2 separate regions of the Homo sapiens genome follow, and region 1 is linked to region 2. The links come from fine-mapping of genetic effects on gene expression. Tissue or cell type: whole blood. Region 2 holds a variant in brackets; the other region holds the start of a gene. All regions are shown on one strand. Distances are between the middles of the regions.

The links. PIP is the estimated chance that this variant, and not a neighbour inherited with it, causes the effect.
Region 1: RAB33A starts here. The variant in region 2 is fine-mapped to the expression of RAB33A in whole blood (GTEx, PIP 0.95).

The regions. Positions count from the first base shown.
Region 1 is chrX:130,169,388-130,175,508 of GRCh38, forward strand. RAB33A (RAB33A, member RAS oncogene family) reads left to right here and starts at 2,575. Exons shown (of 2, transcript NM_004794.3): 1 at 2,575-2,933. The coding sequence starts at 2,676. RefSeq lists enhancers at 1,299-1,348, 2,158-3,112 and silencers at 1,729-1,788, 1,959-2,038.
Region 2 is chrX:130,090,521-130,096,641 of GRCh38, forward strand. All of the region lies in intron 1 of ELF4 (E74 like ETS transcription factor 4), which reads right to left. Among named protein-coding and RNA genes, the nearest start is that of ELF4, 17 kb to the right of the region's middle. RefSeq lists a silencer at 1,165-1,214. The variant G/A (reference allele first, on the strand shown) is at 3,440.

The DNA.
Region 1 (6,121 bases), 79 kb after region 2:
TCATGATAATCAGGTACCTATGAAAACAACTGCATGTATTTGAAAGTAATTTAATAATGCACAATTAACACAAAGGGCATTGTACAGTACATTTAATTTTTTTACAATAGGTACAATAAGGTAGTTTTCCTGTCCTTTTAATTAAAAATTATATTTTTATCTTTTTTCAAAAGCAATATATACTCATTGAATTAATTCCAAAAAATATAAGTGGAAATCCCCCAAAGTCTCACCCCACAGAAGTAACAGACACCTTTTATTAGGGCAAGAAGCCCATTTTGAGATATCATATTTTCAGAAATCAAAGTTTCTTCCTTACAAAAGTAGACTCAGTGACAAGTTTTTGCTAGAAGCTTACATTGAAATAATCTTATTATGTACATATGTTTTTTTAATATCTCTCAGGAAGTTAGCATTAATTCTAGCTGTGAATTGGCAAAGGGCAAAGCCCCTTTCTACTTTGTGTACAGGATGTACCTAATTAATAGTTACCCCTCTCCACCTTAAAGCTATTCTGTAGATAAAGATCATCAGGGGCATTAACTTCCAATACAGAGGGGAACGATCCAGCAAACTAGGCATCAGACTAATCAAAACCAAAAATACTGTACAATGATGATTGATACATAATACAATGAAAATTGGTATTCATAAGGATGATTTTGGATTAGCCAACTAAGAGGAAATCCTTATCTGGGTAGTTTTAATGCTGAGTAGTATAATGTAGGGTTTTAGAAATGGGCGACCCACATATATGATAAAAGGGTTAGCTGTAAATATATCTGCTAGCTCAGCTAATAAACTTATTAACTGGAAGATGCCATTCTGAGTAACTTGGACGTCCTTGAGTAGTCACATTCCAATTTGCTTTCAGGTATATCACTGATGCACTGAATTGTTTTTCTCTCAGCAGAAATGGATTTGGTCATGTTTGTCTCTTCCTGCAGCTCAACCTCCCAAATAAGATGGCAGCTCAACTGTGCTGTTTGAATCCCTGACCTTGATGGCATTAGCAATAACTCACGAGTCAGTGCTAGTGACATGTGTCAGTGTTACCTTAGCTTATGAAATATGTAGGGGGAGAGGTAAAGTCTTAAAAGAAACAAATGGGTGCACTTTATCGTATGTAAATTGTACCCCCAGTAAAGTCGATTTCAAACAAATTCTGAACCCGCGAATGACTTTAGGGAGAAGGAATACTGGTCTTGACCAAGATGTGTGTGATGATTAGTAAGCTTTGGGCAGCAGCCCCCTAATACTGTAAGGAGGTTGTGTTCATTTATCATCTTCCAAGCATAATCTAGGCTTCTGGCAAATTAGACCCAACCACTTTGTTCTACATTCAGCTGCAGGGGGAGGTGAACCCTCCTAGGGATTCCCAACTCCCTCTGAAACTCCAGCGTTCTGGAGGGACTTATGGTTATATGGAGGGCTTGGGAATGGAAGGCACTGTGGAGCTTATGCCATTGTCCCAAGATCCTCCACCTGGGCCAGTAATGGCTAGCCCCGTAAACAAAGTCCCCTTTTGCTGGAACTGCCACCACTAGCTTCCCCCCCTTCTCCTAGCCTCTGTGTGGCCCTCTCCCGCGGCGGGCCTTCCCCATTGGCCAGCCAAACACAACCGACTGCGGCAGCCAATAGGAGCCGCTCTCCTGAACATTCAGAGGATGGGTGCGCGTGGTGTGATAAGGGGATGTTGGCGCCTGGTACGCGCCCCCCTACATCTGGCAAGTCTGTAACAGAAACAGTTACACCCCCTACACACGCACACGCGTGCCCGCTGGCTCCCTCCTCTCAGCTGTACAGGCCCCGGACAACCCACTGCGTGTCTTGGCAGCGGCCTCCCAGGCTGCCTGGGGCCCGCGAGTGCACCTGCTCACTCATTAAGACAGAGCATCCCTTTATCCCAAGGCGCGGGTCGGGTAGAGGGTGGGGGTAGAGGGGACGGGGTAGCGGGGACCGGGAAGGCGCGGCTCAGCTGCCCGCTGCTCCCGAGGTGAAAGAGGTGCCTCCGCCCCCACCCCATCCCCGCAGAGTTGCGTTGCTCCAGGGAGGCCGAAGTGATCCAGTGATGTCTTAAGGTGCAGCTCTTTGTCCTCCCCAGCTGTGCTCCCTGCCCGCTGACCCCGTGCGCTCGAGCCAGTGGGGGTGGGGAGCCCGAAACCTATAACATAAACGGGGGCAAGGAGAAAGAAGTCTATCCCGGGGTGGCGTGTGCCGCTGTCCCCACCCCGTCTCTTTCCTCCTGAGGCTTCTTCCCTCGGGTCCGTCCCGGGAATGCAGGCAGGGGAGGGTGTGGGCCGAGGCGCGGCGGCGGCTGGAGCAGCGCGGTAGGGTCCTTCGCCAGAGCATCCGGTCCGAGGGCGCACACAGGCAGAAGGCTCGCGGCTCGTCCACTCTCCTCCCTCTCTCCTCCTCTCCCTGGCTTTTGTGTTGGTGCCTCCGAGCTGCAAGGAGGGTGCGCTGGAGGAGGAGGAGGGGGGCCCGGAGTGAGAGGCACCCCCTTCACGCGCGCGCGCGCACACGGTGCCGGCGCACGCACACACGGGCGGACACACACACACGCGCGCACACACACACGCACAGAGCTCGCTCGCCTCGAGCGCACGAACGTGGACGTTCTCTTTGTGTGGAGCCCTCAAGGGGGGTTGGGGCCCCGGTTCGGTCCGGGGGAGATGGCGCAGCCCATCCTGGGCCATGGGAGCCTGCAGCCCGCCTCGGCCGCTGGCCTGGCGTCCCTGGAGCTCGACTCGTCGCTGGACCAGTACGTGCAGATTCGCATCTTCAAAATAATCGTGATTGGGGACTCCAACGTGGGCAAGACCTGCCTGACCTTCCGCTTCTGCGGGGGTACCTTCCCAGACAAGACTGAAGCCACCATCGGCGTGGACTTCAGGGAGAAGACCGTGGAAATCGAGGGCGAGAAGATCAAGGTGATCCAGGGGGTCAGGTCCAGGAAGGGTGGGACCCGGGAGGGGACCTCGCCCGAGGCATAGCTCTAGCGGTTGTCGTCGTCCAGCGTCCAGCGCGTGGCGGTTTCGCCTCTTGCTGAGCCGAGGACCCTCGGCTCCTCCTCACCCCTTTTCACCTCTCTCAGCGGGGCCCCGTCCCCACTTCACTCAGTTTTTTAGGGCGGTTGAGAATGGGGTTGCATTCTTACCCTTAGCCCCTGCCTGACAGGTCCTGCCAGGAAAAGCATGTTGGATTCCCATCCATGACCCCTACCCCGAGCAGCGGCACCTGTGGGCAGAGGGAGGCAGGAGGCATCTGTGGGTCCTAGTCTCTGGGATGGATCCCAAAGCACTTTACACATCCTGATGTCTCTTCTACTGCTTGGGTGCCGATAGGCTGCAAAACCCCACTTTGGCTAAGCCTCAAGGCGTTAGAGGGAAGGAAATGATGGAAATCCATGGAGAATGAAAAAGCTGCTTTATTTTAAATTGCAGTTTATAGTTAAAAAATTAGGGCTGAGTTGAGATGGCGGTGGAGTGGGGTGGTTCTGGCAGAAAGCCATGAGCCCTTTTAAAGAAATTGAGGCAGGGTCCAGCCCTTCGTAATAGACAAAACTTGTTTTTTTGTAACAGCCCCCCTGGAATGATATCTTCTTTACTTGTCTGGGGCATCTAATACATGAACTGCTCCTTATTCATTCTGTTGGTATTGTCTTCAGGTCTTTGTAAAAATGCAGTGACTTAACCGAGGGCCAGGGGAATGTTCAATCCTCCCCCTCCATGAGTTTATGTAATAGGCTAAGTGCAAATATTCTTGTCTGACCATTTGTGCTCACCTTTAATTCAGAAAAGGTAGAAACCTGATATGACAGGAATATGTCAATGTGCAGGGGATGGCGGGAGGGAGGACATAACAAGGGCAACTTCTTGTGTCATGGGGAGCAGAGGGGGGCCTCTATAAAGGCACTGGGATCACTGAAGACAACTCCTCTAGGCTCACAGCTGGCCTTTCCTTGAGCGTATGGTTGGACCTTAGACAGAGTCAGGGGTGACAGTAAGCCTCCTTCTTGCTGGTCAAACTGCCAAAGTGACCACAAGGCCCCTCCTCTGAGTGACGTGGAGAGAAGGGCTGAGTAACTGATGAAACTGATGAAACACTTGAAACTGTGCGAGACTCCTGACTCCTTGATTATTAAAATGAACGTGTTCTAAAAATGGCTTCAGAAACTAGGCCAACTCACTAGATGTCAGGAAGATGGACAGCTCAGTACTGATAAGGGAGAGCCCCAGGGTAGGAAGATAGAACATTATTTTGAAATCGTGATCTTTTTTGCCCCTTGCATTTTGGAAGGGAAGTGCTACATTTCCTTTTAAAGTCAAAGGCGGTATCTGTCTCTGTCCTTTCCTGGGGCTGTTGACATTTGCTTGGTTAAGACTTCCTCTAGTGTGTCTAGCTTCTTTAATGTAAGGCTATAAGATTCTAGAATTTCTAAAACATGACTTTGTAATCCAAAGTAGAAATATCTTTACAGATGGGCTCTTAAACCTCAAAAACCTAATGCTCCCATTTGCTTAAAATCAAGTGCTACAGTGAGCCAAAGAGTTCCCTGGATTTAAAAGGTGGGAAATAAGTCCATCTGAAATTTAGATGGAAAAAATGAAGTGTTTGGGAATCTAAAGAAGGAGGGAGGAAGAAGCTAGAAAGTGAGGGATGACAGATGAACACGAGTGGAAGAGTCACCACCCAGTGGCCTTGAAGGAATTTTTAAACTATTCCTTCTCTTCTAACACCCCAGTACTTAGCCAAACTGGACTTTACAGTCTCTGGCAAAGATTCCAGACTTTTTCCCAGAGGGCAGAGCCTGTGACAGTGTGACTCACTAGAAACAGAGCTCAGCACAACACCACGTGCAGATAAGTGCTTAATACAGGCTTTTTTGGGGAAGATGATATTTTCAAGGGGACAAAGCCTTGTGACACTGCTCATGGAGGAGTCCTCTGAGGGCAGATTCCAAAGGAGCTCAGAGTGGCGTGTGGGAGTGGGGAGATGGTGACCCTGCTTCTTGTAAAGCTGCTGCAATCTCAGGACCATGCTGGCAGGCGAGAGACCAGCATGTCTGTGGGAAGATGGCAGAGCCTGGCGGCTAGCACGTGATCTAGATAAGAGAAGATTTGGCCTCGCACTCTGGCTAGCCTGAAGTTGTTCAAGGAATACATGCCAAAGCCATGCTTGGAGATGACTGCCAAGGGCTTCGTCCTTTGCGAGAGAGAGAAAAGTCCAGTGTGACAGTCCGAGGTCTGGCCTAGACCATGGCCAGCAATAGAAGGCTTTTGGGCTGTAACATACCAGCCCTTGGAGGAGAGTGGTAGAGAGGTCTCAGCCAGCTCTTCTCAGTCTAAGAGCAAGGGTGTGGCCTCTTCTGGGCTGCCTGCCTGTGTCCCGGGGTAGCACATACATGAACCCCTGCTAGGGACAACTGATTTGGTGTAGTTAGAGCCACACTGTAATTAATTATCAAGGCCATCCCTAGGGTATTGAAGCCCCATTTGCTGTCTCCAATCATTATGTTCCCCACCCTCACCCCATCAAAGCATTTACAATTGAGTCCTGATGAACTCAATTGTATGAACATCAAGAAAAGCCTCCAATGAGTAGGCAATAATAATAATAATAATAACAACTATGTATTGAATAAGCAAAGAGCCCAGGCTAGGCACTTTACATGCATTATCTTATTTACTCCTCACAGCAGCTTTATGAAATCAGCAGTATTGTTATCATTCCCATTTTATAGATAAGGAGACTGAGGCTAAGAGAGATGAAATAACCCAGTGGCACATGGATCTGAGCTTCAGCCTTTGACTCTTGAGCCCAAGCACTTCGCCACCTCACTATCCTACCTTTCCTGTTACAGGGCCACGATTTCAACCCAGATTCAGAGACCATGCCCTTTACCACTGCATTTCACTCTACAGGACAATATTCAGTCCCCTAGATTGGGGGAGTTTGACAGGGGGAGATAGAATGCCAGGCAGCCAGTCTTGCTCTTTCTTCTAGGCCAGGGACTTAGGGTTATAGCCCAAGGCCCCCAGGAGCCTTTCAGATGTCTCCTTCAATTTGTATCCAGGACACACAGAACTCAACTGGGTTTACTTTTTTTTTTTTTTTT
Region 2 (6,121 bases):
CTTCAACTTCTGCAAGCCCAATGCCCACAAGTCCTTCAAGATCTGAAGCAAATGTCACCTTCTTTTCAAAGCCTTCCCTGCTTCCTCCCCACCTGGCACACTCTCTCCTCCTCCTCATGACACCTTAGCTTTACTTCTTAGACCAAAGCAGGGGTTCATAAACTATGGCTCATGTGCCAAACCCAGCCCTGCGGTCCATTTTTAGACGGCCCATGAGCTAAGAATGGGTTTTACATTTTTTAATGATTGGGAAAAATCAAAAGAAAAATATTTCCTGACATATAGTGATTTTTTAATATATGTATTTTTTGAGACTGGGTTTTGATCTGTCACCCAGGTTGGAGTGCAGTGGCACAATCATGGCTCACTGTAACCTCTGTCTCCTAGGCTCAAGTAATCCTCCCGCCTCAGCCTCCCAAGTAGCTGGAACTACACGTGCACGCCACCGTGCCCGGCTAACTTTTTGTATTTTTTGTTGAGACAGGGTTTTGCCATGTTGTCCAGGTTGGTCTCAAATAAACTGGCTCAACCAATTCTTTGTAGGAAAGGTTTGCTGAATGCTGGACTAAAGGCTTCAGTGTGAATAAATTCACCAAGTTCATTTCTTTTTTAAAATTTATTTTAGGCCAGACACAGTGGCTCACTCCTATAATCCCTGTACTTTGGGAGGCCGAGGCGGGTGGATTACCTAAGGTCAGGAGTTTGAGACCAGCCTGGCCAACATGATGAAACCCCGTCTCTACTAAAAATACAAAAAATTAGTTGGGCATGGTTGTGGGCGCCTGTAATCCCAGCTACTCAGGAGGCTGAGGCAGGAGAATCGCTTGAACCCGGGAGGCAGAGGTGCAGTGAGCCGACATCGTGCCACTGCACTCCAGCCTGGGCAACAAGAGTGAAACTCCATCTCAAAAAAATATATATTTTTTCAAATTTGTATTTATTTATTTTTCAGAGATGGGGTCTTGCTATATTGCCCAGGCTGGTCTCCAAGTCCTGGCCTCAAGCCATCCTCACACCTCCACCTCCCAAAGTGCTGGGATTACAGGCGTGAGCCACCACACCCACCCCATCATGTTGATTTCTGAGAAGAATGTCACAGAGCACTTGGGGATGGAGGTGCCTGCAGGGAGGTGTGGGATGCCAAATACAACTCAGCAGATTCTCATCAGAAAGAAGGTCCTGGGCTGGGGTTAGGAGACGTGAGTTCTGCCCATGATGTGACCTCGAGCAGGTCACTTCTGCTTTGTGTGCCTCGGTTACCTCATCTGCACAATGAGGGGGTTGGACTGGGTGACCTAAGGGCCTGTCTAGCCCTATGACTTAGACAGGCAGTGATCAACTGCATTACCATCTCCCACAGTTCTTAGCAGGCATGGTCCTGATCATTTACCCTCAGAACAAAAGCTTACAGAAGGGTCCTCTGCCCAGCTGTGGTTTTCCGCTGCCCCCATGGGCCTCCCTCACTCCACACTCACCTGCCCTGCCCCACCCTTCCCGTCTGCTGACCTTTCTGCCCTCCTCTCGGAATTCCTCTCCTTGCAAAATGAAGATGGCCTCCTCTGAAAGAGCCCTCCCCTCCCTCCAGTCCGGTGGGCTAAAAGCCTCCACTTTTTTGGGAGGGAGACAGGGAAAGGACTCTCACCTCTCCCCAGCCTCCCAGGGCCCACAGCAGACAGGCAGTGGAGTAGGAGATAGGGCCAGCTCTCACCGCACCCCTGCTCTGCCAGCGGAAACAGCCCTTCTCTGCCACTTCCTGTCCCAGGGGTTTCAGCAGTTTCCCCTTCGGGGCCTGCTGGCCCTCCCAGCCCCGCCCCTGCCTCACACAGGTCAGGGAGTGCAGAGAGGGAAGGGCCCTGCGTGGTGAGTGGGGAGGATCCCTCACAGGAAGGCTGAGGAGACAGCTGTCTACACAAGGGGACGCCCCAGTGGCAGGTCTACCAGACTGCTTTGGGCTAGGAGCAGGTACAAGCGGATGCAGTACCTGGGAGGGAGATTGGGGCTCTCTTGCTACCACAAACCCTCTCCACAAACCCTCTCCTACTACCAGATGAGTAGAAATGACTTTATCACTTTACCTAGCTGTCACCTTGAGGGGTGGAGTGAGCCTGGCCTTAGAGGACTGGATAAAAAACTGGAATATAAATGCTGAGGTCAATGTCCAGGAAGGACTAGCCCAGGGTGGCTTCGAATGGAGGGACAGGTTTAATGAAGCAAGAGGATGAGAGGTTAGTTCACTGGGGCAGATGACATTGAAATCAATGTCACTTCGTAATTTTGCAGGGGCCTTGTCCCTAGCACCAATGGACACAGGCGACAACGGAGGGCAAAGTACAGTTGTCCCCTGGCATACTTGGGGATTGGTTCCAGGACCACCTGGGAATACCAAAATCCATGCACACTCAAGTCCCGCAGTTGGCCTGTGGAGCCCACAAATCCAAAAAGGTGGCCCTCCCTGTACTCAGGTTTCGAATCTTGAGAATACTGTTAAAAAAAAAAAAAATCCACATATAGGCCGGGTGTGATGGCTCATGCCTATAATTCCAGCATTTTGGGCCAAGGCAGGCAGATCACCTGAGGTCAGGAGTTCGAGACCAGCCTGGCCAACATGATGGCGTGGTGGCAGGCACTCTGTCCCCCAGGTTGGAGTGCAGTGGTGAGCCTATAATCCCAGCTACTTGGGAGGCTGAGGCAGGAGAATTGCTTGAACCCAGGAGGCGGAGGTTGCAGTGAGCCAAGATCGCGCCATTGCACTCCAGCCTGGGTGACAGAGCAAAACTCTGTCTCAGAAAAAAAAAAAAAAAATCCACATATAAAGTGGATCCGTGTGGTTTAAACCCATGTTGTTCAAGGGTCAACTGTATTATATCACATATGGGTCAAGGGTAGAGGCATTTTCTGGGTGATGTAGCAGGAAACTCTCACATTCCATGGTGGCTGATGACTTGGTGTGGTGACTTCCACTCTTAAGTACCTCCCAGGTGCTGTTGCAAGGTGGGGTTCCTAGCCGTAGGGCTGTGTGCCTGTGAGGTTATTGTGCAGGCAGGTGACCCACTCAGTGAGACCCTCCCAAGGCCATGGGTCAGAACAGCTGTAAGCAGCCTGAGGCTTTGGACCTCTCTGCCCAGTTGCCAGTCCTCCTGGGGACAGGCCAGAACTATGTGATGCTGGCTCTAGAAGCCTTGCTGCCTGGTTCGGGGGCCTCGTGGTGGATGGACACAATCACCTTGGCTTCCCCGTAGTGATATTGTTCCCTGAGGTTCAAGCAGCTGTGCAAGAAGCTAAGGGGATTCCTACAAATGATGGTTCTGGATGGGCCTGCAAAAAAAATGGCTGAGAAGGTGATCTTGATACCTCTCTCAGCTCGGGGCCATATTCTTGTATCTTTGGCCAAGAACCCTGCCCAGCCAGGCCTCCTGTCATGAGAGCAGGGGCCGGGCGT[G/A]GTGGCTCACACCTGTAATCCCAACACTTTGGGAGGACGAGGTGGGTGAATCACTTGAGGTCAGGAGTTCAAGACCAGCCTGGCCAACATGGAGGCACCCCGTCTCTACTAAAAATACAAAAATTGGCCGGGTGTGGTGGCTCACGCCTGTAATCTCAGACTTTGGAGGCCAAGGTGGGCGGATCATGAGGTCAGGTGGGCGGATCATGAGGTCAGGAGTTCGAGACCAGCCTGGTCAATATGGTGAAACTCCATCTCTACTGAAAATACAAATATTAGCCAGGCGTGGTGGTGCAAGCCTGTAGTCCCAGCTACTCGGGAGGCTGAGGCAGAAGAATCACTTGAACCCAGGAGGCAGAGGTTGCAGTGAGCCGAGATCACGCCACTGCACTCCAGCCTGGGTGACAGAGTGAGACTCCATCTCAAAAAAACAAAAACAAAACAAAACAAAACAAAAATTAGCCATGCATGGTGGCGGGCGCCTATAATCCCAGCTACTCGGGAGGCTAAGGCAGGAGAATCGCTTGAAACCCGGAGGCAGAGGTTGCAGTGAGCCAAGATCACGCCACTGCACTCCAGCCTGGGTGACAGAGGAGACTCCATCTCAAAAAAAAAAAAAGAGAGAGAGAGAGAGCAGGGTCCCACTTTTCCCTGTCCCCTCTCACTCTATGTCCCCCCTAGGACAAAGAGGAACCAGTTCCCTCCAGATAGGGCCCCGCCGCCCCTGAGGGGAGTACCTGCTTGTCCACTCCTGCAAGCTGGAGTGAATACGGCTTCACAGCTGGTAGGGAGAACGCCAAGGAAACCTTAGAAACAACATCTGGATGTGCACCTGGGCTTCTGCCAGCCCCTCCCTACATCTGCAGCACAAACCCAGGGCCAGGGTTTGGTTACAAGCCTGGCTCAAAGCTGGCGGCACGTGTTTGGGTGGAGGGGGTGGAAGCGCTTGAGGTTGGTGCCAGCTCAGGGTGAGCACTTGTGGGGTTGGCAGTGACCTGAGCTGCTGGTGGGCCGAGGGTGGTGGGTGTGGCCACTGTGGTCTCAGGCATGGCCTGCTGGGGGAGGGGCAGTGGGGCGTGGGTGCTTGTGTAAAGGTGGGCAAGATTTTCTTTTGCGCTCTCTGATACCACTTCAAGTTGCTCCCCCTGCTTCGGGAAAAGGAGGGCCAAACAGTAAAAATGACAAGATGACAGGGTGGTGTGCAGGGAAGGTGGCAGGGATGTGTAGTTCTGGGGTGCTACACCGTCCCTGCAAAGGAGCCAGTAAGTGGCAGAGCCGGGGTTTGAACCTAGCTTTATTTCCAACTACTACACACAATGAACTTTGTTTTCAGTGAAATCTGCTTTGGTAATAATTCTGTTTTAATAGTTTCATTTGAAAAACAGTAGAAGTGAGGCTCAGAGATTAGGTAACATGATCAAGGCCACCACTGCCCAAGAATGGAGGCAGAACTCAAACTGGGGCCGGTGTGACCTTGATCTTGAAGTCCCTGCTTTTTCCTCTGTCCATGCTAGCAACCATCTGCTAGGATCCCTAGCTCAAGGCTGGCTCACAGCTCTCCACTTCGAAGCCTCAGAGCCCCTGTGGGGCCGCTTCAACAGAGGCTTCCCAGGCTTGTGTCCCAAGCCCCTCAAGGACTCAATGTCAACCCAAGCTCCATCTAGTAAGTCAATTCTAACTTCCAATGGTGACCATGTGAGCTCCTGTGGCCAGCTGCGGAGAAGGAGTATTGTGGAGGGGGAGCCTTCCAGCTCTGATGATGTGGAGGCCGACTCTTCCTATAAGCTCTGCTGTTTCCAGAGAGTTCCTGGCTCCAGACCTCAAGTAGCCACAGCATGGTCCCTGCCCCATAAATATACACTTGCTCTTGGCTTACATATAATGTAAGTCTGGGCTCTTATCTTGGGGTGTTGGTTCACATGTTTATTCAAATATTTATGGAAAGTCAGCCTTGAACACCTCATAGGTGCCAGGCCCAGGGCCAGGGGACTAATCACGGGGCCCACCCTATTCTCTGTGGTAGAGTCTCTTTGTATCCAAATTCCCACTAAGCTCAGTAGCCCATCTGCCTAAACAATATTGCTGGGTGCTCCACCCCCTCAAAACATGTTTGTAGCAAGTTATCTTCAAAATTGAGGCCCAAGGGTTGGGAGAAAATGGGGAGTGAATACTAATGGGTATGGGATTTCTTTTGGGGGTGATGAAAATGTTTTGGGTTTTTTTTTGTTTTGTTTTGTTTTTGAGACAGAGTCTCACTCTGTCGCCCAGGCTGGAGTGCAGTAGCACGATCTCAGCTCACAGTAACCTCTGCCTCCCGGGTTCAAGTTATTCTCATGCCTTAGCCTCCCAAATAGCTGGGACTACAGGTGTGTGCCAGCCATACCGGGCTAATTTTTGTATTTTTATTAGAGATGGGGTTTCACTATGTTGGCCAGGCTGGTCTCAAATTCCTAGCCTCAAGTGATCCGCCCACCTCAGCTTCCCAAAGTGCTGAGGTGATAGGCGTCAGCCACCATGCCCTGCCTGGGGGTGATGAAAATGTTCTAAAATGGATTCTGGTGATGGATGTACAACTCTGAGAATAGATTAAAAACTACTGAAGTGTATGCTTTAAGAGGATGAATTATATGGTATTTGAACTATATCTAATAACTATATCTAATAAAGCAGTTGTCTTTTTTT